2 linked regions of the Homo sapiens genome follow. The protein of the gene in region 2 purifies or fractionates together with the protein of the main gene of each other region. This does not show direct contact. Each region holds a gene or a part of one and is shown on either strand. Other genes may lie near its edges.

Evidence for each region. Proteins that work in one complex are often made in the same cells at the same time.
Region 1: the proteins of NT5C1A (region 2) and PM20D1 purify together in Homo sapiens (affinity purification with mass spectrometry; one large-scale study listed by BioGRID and IntAct). This does not show direct contact.

The regions. Positions count from the first base shown.
Region 1 is NC_000001.11:205,840,009-205,843,660, forward strand, and holds part of PM20D1 (N-fatty-acyl-amino acid synthase/hydrolase PM20D1 precursor), read right to left. Parts: intron 2,744-3,652; coding exon 2,668-2,743; intron 2,208-2,667; coding exon 2,146-2,207; intron 1,882-2,145; coding exon 1,803-1,881; intron 316-1,802; coding exon 244-315; intron 1-243. UniProt on the Homo sapiens protein: Secreted enzyme that regulates the endogenous N-fatty acyl amino acid (NAAs) tissue and circulating levels by functioning as a bidirectional NAA synthase/hydrolase.
Region 2 is NC_000001.11:39,669,909-39,673,660, forward strand, and holds the start of NT5C1A (cytosolic 5'-nucleotidase 1A), read right to left. Parts: upstream 2,200-3,752; 5' UTR 2,131-2,199; coding exon 1,996-2,130; intron 1-1,995.

The DNA.
Region 1 (3,652 bases), about 170 Mb from region 2:
TGTTTGTTACTATAGGTATTGCTATCATTTATTCATACTCATCTTCCATTTCAGACCCCATGTTTACCCAAACCCAGGATCTCCAATCCTAATGAAGTATCCGGTGCATAGGTTGTCTTTGAAAAATGTTGGTTGAATAAATGGGACACTGGACCAGCCCTAGGACTGTAGTTAAACCCGGGCCCTGAGGGCCACATCTCCCTGATGCTGCATGAGTTGTTGTCTGGAACATATGGTACATACCTCTTGGACTGTCTGTCCAGGGTGAATCCGGAAGTTGACTGTGGCCTGGGCCACTGGGGGGATGACATTGAACTAGAGAGAGAAGCACAAAACCCTGGCTTGAGTCAACCTCAAATCTTCTACATCTGCCTGCCCAGGAAATGCTAATTTCCTCAGCTCAGGCAGAGTTGGCTGATTTGACTTAAGGACCCAAGGCTTAGCTTTTCTAGTCTGCCTCTTGTCTTCTCTGAACTAAGTGACATGTTATATTCAGAGCTGAAGGGGTGTCTCTGCTTTAAGCCAGACCTTCCTGCTTCTTGGTGCTGCAGGGGGTCACAGAGATGTTCAGAGCAAGGCTGCTTTCTCTGATCACCCAGATATCTCTGTTTTGGCCCCATGCTGTGCTATTAGAAGCCTTCTGTGTGCACTTTCTTTCCCAGCACACCCAGGACATTTCTGCAGCTGTTAACATTAGTGCTTACTCACGATGGGGCAGCCAGAGCCTCTGTTGACCCCCATCATGGCATAGCACGGGGCTCACATCAGGTTTGATCCTTGAGGGGGATGAGAAGAACACATACTCCTCACATATTCCTGGTCAGGCAGGAACAAAAGAGTGACAGAAAAGTAACCTTCAGAGTAAGAAAAGGACCCTAGTGCTGGCCAGTGCTCTGCCTGTTCTCACCTATTCCCAGCCAGTGACTGAGCCAAGACAGAGGGATCTGGCTTGTTCTCTAGGGCTGTTAGTATGTTTCTGAGACCCTAAGACCTAACATAACCTTTGGGAGCTGGTTCCCTCTTATCCTTGAGGCTGCTGAGCAATTGTTCTAACCAATCAGATAAGCCAGTCAGGCAGTAATTGCCTCCCCATTCCCGACCTTCTAGCAGGGATTGGTGGTTTCCCAGGTCCAGTTGTAAAATCTGACTTTTTTGCCTGACCAGGAGGAATCCAGGACTAACTGGAGAAAAGAGTTAGGCTATGGAGGGATTGTTCCTTGGAGGCCGGGAGACTCCCCAAGTGCATATCTTTCTTTGAACTCGTATGGTGCAAAAAAGCACTAAGTGGTCAGGGACAGAGCTGGGCTGTTGCAAATTAGCTGTTGCAACCTCTTTGTGCCTCTGTTTTCTCAACTGGGTATTGGGGCAATACTCATAGGACTCTTAGAAGGCTCAGATGGAGTAACAAAGTATCCTGGGGAGATGAAAACACCATTCAAATGTCAGGACACAGTGCTATTATTCTGATGAACACTACAGCTGACACACTGGACGGTCCAGTGAGTTATGCCAGGAATTAATTCAGAGGCATCATTCACTTATATACCCGATTACTAGAGTGCTTCAAGGTCACATTGTACTCTAGGTGAATGGTGCCCCCTGAAGTTGTGCTGGTGGTACTGGCAGTTACAAGAATGGTCTAACTCCCTTCAAGATTTCAGAAAGGCCTATGTCTTTGCGTGGCTAGGCTTGGATCCAGCTGACACACACAGAAGGAAGGAAGAGCCAGTAGATAGATTCAAGGAAGGGAGGAGTGGAGGGCGGTAGGGAAAAGCTATATGGGGAGGAACCAGGGATGTTACCTTGACCCCTGCTTTGAATATGGTGAGTGCCGTGGTGGTCCTGATTATTGCATTGGTTAAGGGATTTCTCTCCATAAACCTAAAACAAAAGGACCAAGGTCAGATGTTAGAAAGAACCAATGGGGTGAAGGAAAGGGCGGAAACATTACCCACTTTCCTGAACCTTGGGGATCTTTAAGACTGAGAGAGACGTCTTAGAGATGTCTTAAATATACACACTTAGAGATGCAGTATCTGGTGGCTGAGGGATGATTAGTCAGGCCCAGTTAAGCCAAGGAGAGGGGCCTGGGGGGTGGGTAGGTTTGAGGTGAGGGATGTGAAAAAAGGAAAGATAATACTTTACCTGCTTATAAGTGGTTCAAATAGCCATGGGTTGCTCAGGATTATATTGACAGGGAAGGGAAACTGGGAAAGAACAAGGTCAGCACCACAGGGTCACCTCTAGTTTAGCCTGGGTCTCTGAGACCTGAGTCTCTCTCTACTTTAGAGCTGCCTCAGGGGCCCTTAGCAGTCAGGAGTGCTGCTAAATTCAGTTAGCTCAATCCCTGCTAGAGGATCAGGAATAGGGAGGCAATTACTGTCTGGCTGGGCTTATCTGGTTGGTTAGAACAATTGCTTAGCAACCTCAAGGATAAGTGGGAACCAGCTCCCAAAGGGTAGATTAGGTCTTAGGGTCTCAGAAACACACTAACAGCCGTAGAGAACAAGCCAGATCCCTGTGTCTTGGCTCAGCCACTGGCTGGGAATAGGTGAGAATAGGCAGAGTGCTGGACAGTACTAGGGTCCTTTTCTTACTCTAAAGGTTACTTTTCTGTCCGTCTTTTGTTCCTAGCTGATTAGGAGTATGTGATACTTCTTCCCATACCTCATTTGCCAGTTGCTGCAATACAGTCACCACTGTCCCGCTTCCAAATATGATAGGCATTGGTGTCTGCTCCAATCTGGAAGAGAAACAGAGTCCTCAAGACTTAGCGAACCCCAGCCAAAGATCAGTGGCTTGAAGAGGAGAAGAAGGGAGATAGGAGGAAGTTTCAACGCTCCTGGCCAAGAGGTCTCTCATTCACCTCCCTCCCACCTCCACCAACTCAACATTCTGAAGATCTCAAAACATCCCCAGGAGCTTTCCCTGTCTACCAAGTCTGCATTAGGGTCCTTCTTTCCTCCCTCTGCTGTTCTCTAGAATCCTGTGTGTCCACTCTCATAGCCCATCCCATACTACAGCAGAATTGTCAGTCTCCTGACAATTTGAATGAATATAGCACTCCTTCCCACTTTGCTAAGAAAACCCAGCCAGGAGTAAGCTCTGCTGTTACAGATTCTGCTGTCCTCATTCATAGCCAGCAACTCTTATTTATTTTTGTCCTCCTGCCAGGACAGGTGGAGAATTTCGACAGCTCTACCAGTCATTGCCAATTTGTGATTCTAAATGTCTGGACTCTGGACTACTCTAGCTGCCTGACCTAGCTTCTGCCTGTAGGTCCTTGCTTTCCATATGGATATACTGACAGATCCTCTTCTGACTCCAGCCCTTGCAGGATACTGGTGGCTCTGTCTCTCCTGTGGCTCCCCCAACCCCCACCTTGGAAGGAATTCTCACTCCATTTGAGATGACCCCAGCCTGGTATCTGTGAGCCATGCTGAGATAACTCTTTATTTACACCTGTTGTATTAATCACCTGGATCTTTAGTCTGTCCTGGGCTTCCCCTTCTGTTCTTCCTCTAGTGTCAATTTTTTATAGCATAGTTTCCCAGCCCAACTTTAGGGCAGGAAGCTTAGCCTCCTCAAATTTAAAGTGGGAAAGTGCCAGGGCTTCCATCTCAAGTCTGGCATGGGAACAGGGCCAGGAGTT
Region 2 (3,752 bases):
CTGATGAAAAATCCTGTAATAGCTCCATAATGGTATTCATATGTTTGTTTAAATGTAGGTTGACCTTTTATTTAAATGAATTCAAATAAACTTTGAATTCAATATGTAAGCCAGATATTACCATATATCTCATACCATATGGTACCAGATATAACATATATAATTGGTGTTTATTTATTTTACAGATTCAAATGCATTACATTTATTTATTTATTTATTATAAAGTCAACCAATGAAAACAACACAGTTGTTTGCATGACAACAAATTTGAAACTAGCGGCTAGAATGCCAGTGCAGACTTAAGCTTCAGCATCCGGCCAAGTTGTTGCTGTGTTTGTATTTGTACAGTATTGAGAAAGTCCTGATTCAGACCAATAAGTGGTTGGAAATGCTAAAAGGTTTTTTGTTTTGGTTTGTTTTAAACTAAAGGCCTTACAATCTCAAGACGCTCTTTGATGGAACAGATCACAGGGGAAGCCTTATTCTGAGCTTTGCTTTAAAAAAATCTGCAGCACAAGCTAGTGGCCTTCAAGCTGCTAAAATGTCCACCTAATACATTAGAGTGAGTTGGGTTTTATTACACATTTTTAATTGTTTAAAACATAGTCCGAAGAAGAAAGAAAATAAATTGGATTCACATGTGTGCAGACTCCCTGAAACATGGGGCTTGGGGAAGCTAGTTTGGAAATCCCTGACCCCCTTGAGTAAGGTCCAGACTCCTTAACATGATCCCCAAGGCCCTCTGTGGGCTCTTCCACATCCCTCCAGCTCTTCTTCCAACAATCCTGCATTCTTCATTCAGTACTTATTCAGGAACACAGTCCTGAGCTTCAGAGACATCTGCATGACTTTTGCCTGTCCTGTTTCCCTCTCCCTGGGAAACTCCACCTACTCAGGCTTTAAGATCAGGATACGTGCCACTTCTACAAAGCTTTCCCCAGTGTGATGTCACTACTCTACTCCCCCCCCAACTCCCCTAGGCTCTCATCTCTGGAGCCTCCATCATTGTGCAGTGAGCTCCTGAGGCAGGGACTCAGGTTATTTAATTCTTCAATCCCCACTCTTGAGCAGAGCTTGGAGGTGCTAATTGAATGATTGCTGATAGGGTGGACCTGTTGGGGAAGGGTTCTTGGAGGGAAGCAGCAAATTGCTTTAAGATCAAGCTGGAGCTCTTTGGAGGACCGCTGTGGGCCAACCTCTATTCTCGGTTTTCTCCTCAAGCTCTGAGATCTGGGAAGTTGGAGACAGCAAGGTCCAGGGGCAGACCAGGGCATCATCAACTTGTTTGATGGCAGAGAGGAGAGAGCTCCTCTGTGAGGTCCCAGACGGTTGACACCACCACAGGGTCGTGGGGATGTTAATGCCCACTGCAAGGGGAGCAGAACCCGAGCTGGGGGGCAGAGTCCAGCGCTGGGAGCCTGCGGCCAGGGGCGCCGATCGCCCCCCAGCGCAGAGTGTGGATCCCAGTGCCTGGAGAGAGCAGCTCCCTTTCCTTAGGACGCGGGGAGCGCACTGCCCCCAGCCCAGGGCCCAGGACCCAGAGCCAGACCCCAAACGCAGAGTCTCAGGTCCGGAGCCCGATGCCCAGATGGCGGAGACCGGAGCGCACAGCCAGGAACCGGGTTCCCAAAGTCTGGTTACCCGCGCCTGGGGCGCTTCTGGAAGCGCTGCGGACCAGCTTCGCCAACAAGTGCAATCCGCGCTCCCCGGCGGCCCGAGTGGGGAGGGGCTGGGGCTGCGGGCCTCTAGCTGGGCCCTGATGACAGCATGGGGGAGGGGGAGCCTGGCGTGGAACCCGAGTCCCGGTAAAAAAATACACCAGAGCAGAGCTCCCAAAATAAACCCGAGCCCGCGCCAGCTGCAGGGCGCATTCTGGGGCTGAGGAGCTGCGTCCCCTCCCAGAGGGGCGCCACGGGTCCCTTCCCAAGAGACTTATGACCCCTCCTCCGGGGTAACCCTTCCCCCGTCCCCCGCATACCCGTGCATTGCTTTTACCGATTTGGGTTTCTTCTTGGGCGCGAGGTTGTCGTAGAAAATCTTGGCTTCCTCCCAGACCGGGGCCGCAGCGGTCTCCGCTCCTGGCCCGGGCTCGCGGGGCTCCTGGGGCTCCCGGGGCTGCCCAGGTTCCATGCTCCGGCTCTGACCCGGCCCGGCCAGAGCAGGCGGCGGCGTAGACGCGGAGGTGGCTGGGGCTGGGCTGCAGGAGGGAGGCGAGTCCCGGCGAGGGAAGGGGGCGGGCAGCGGCGAGGAGGCTGTGCGTGTGAGCTGGGCTCCCCGCCCGCCGGGCGGGGGGAGGTCACACTGGCCCTCTCGGTCGCCCGTGTGTCGCTGCCGCTGCTGCTGCTACTGCTGTACGGTATGAGGGATAGCTGGGCTCTCCTTCCCCGACCGACCCACGCCAGCAGCCGGTTGGGTGGTGAGGGGGGCTCTCTGGCTCTCTGGGTTTGTGGGCTGCAGCGGATTGGGGATTGCGAAAATGATGTTCTTCGCAGGCGCTGCAGGGCGCGGAGACAGGAGAGGCCTGACAACTTTTTTTTTCCCCCAGGATAGTGATCCCCAAAGGACAAAATGAAAAGCTAGCCGCTCCCCTCCCAAAAGCTAGCTGCCCATCTTTCCTTTAGGAGCTAGGACCCTGGGATCCTGACGATGTCCCCTTCCCTCCGAGGCCAGTCCATCCGGCAGACGGGCAGGAGGTGATGCATGGATGGCTCCTCTCACTAGCAGAAGCCTGCTCCCAGCGGGAGCTCAGTGAAGGGCCCAACCCGGCAGCTCCTCCACACCACCTAGGAGGGGCCCTTGAAGTCCATGTTGAGACCAGGCTCGGGTGGTCTCAGGTCGAGACCTTGGCCTGGGGTGGGGACCCAGGCCAGAGAGACTCCCAGGGACTCTGAACCCGAATTCTTGCTGGCCCTTTGGTGGTCAGCAGAGGGCGCGCATTCCTAGGCCCCCACCTGCCCAGCTTGGGGTGATTTGTTATAGGCCATGAAGGGGCTGGATAGAGGGAGGGCAGAAGAGGGGCCTCGGAACTACCATCCTGGAATTCCAGGGTGTTGTCCCTCTTGATGCAGAGCTCTGTACTAGTCTCAGGGTGCAGACACAAATGTCACCCATCCCAAGGTACAGGCCAGGAAGCAGACAGCCTCTCTCAGAGGTGTGCATGGGTGGGTGGGAGAAGCAGGAGAAAACACTGGCTTAGCTAGGAGGGCCTCTGACTGGGGAGGTGAGGGGGCTACAGAATGGAGTGATCCCCTCAGCCTCCACCAGGTCCTGGGAGGAATAAACCAACCCTTGTGTGGGAGGAAGGGAAAAATCATAATAAAATGTTAGGATTGGGGGAAGTGTGTTTAGACTTACTTCTAGAAGATTGTTTCCAGAGATGGCCCAAAAACCTCTTCCATCCTGCCTGTCCTTTGGAAATGTGACTTTGACATTCCTCCCATTCAGAGGTGGAGTCCAGTCTGAGCTGGCCCTGTGACTTGCTTTGACCAATTGAATGGAGTAGAAGTGGTGCTCTGTGGTTTCCAAGCTTACGTCTTAAGAGGCCTTGCAGATTCCATTTTTGCCCTCTTGGGAGCCAGCTACTATGTAAATAAGTCTGGACTATCCTGCTGGAAAGGCCACGTAGTGAGACAGATAGGACCTGGAGGATAAGAAGCTAGCGACAGCCCAGGTGACTATAGGCACAATTGACAGACATGTGAATGAGGCCATCCTGGCTGTCCCAGCCCCAGCTCAGCTCCCAGTGGAGTGCA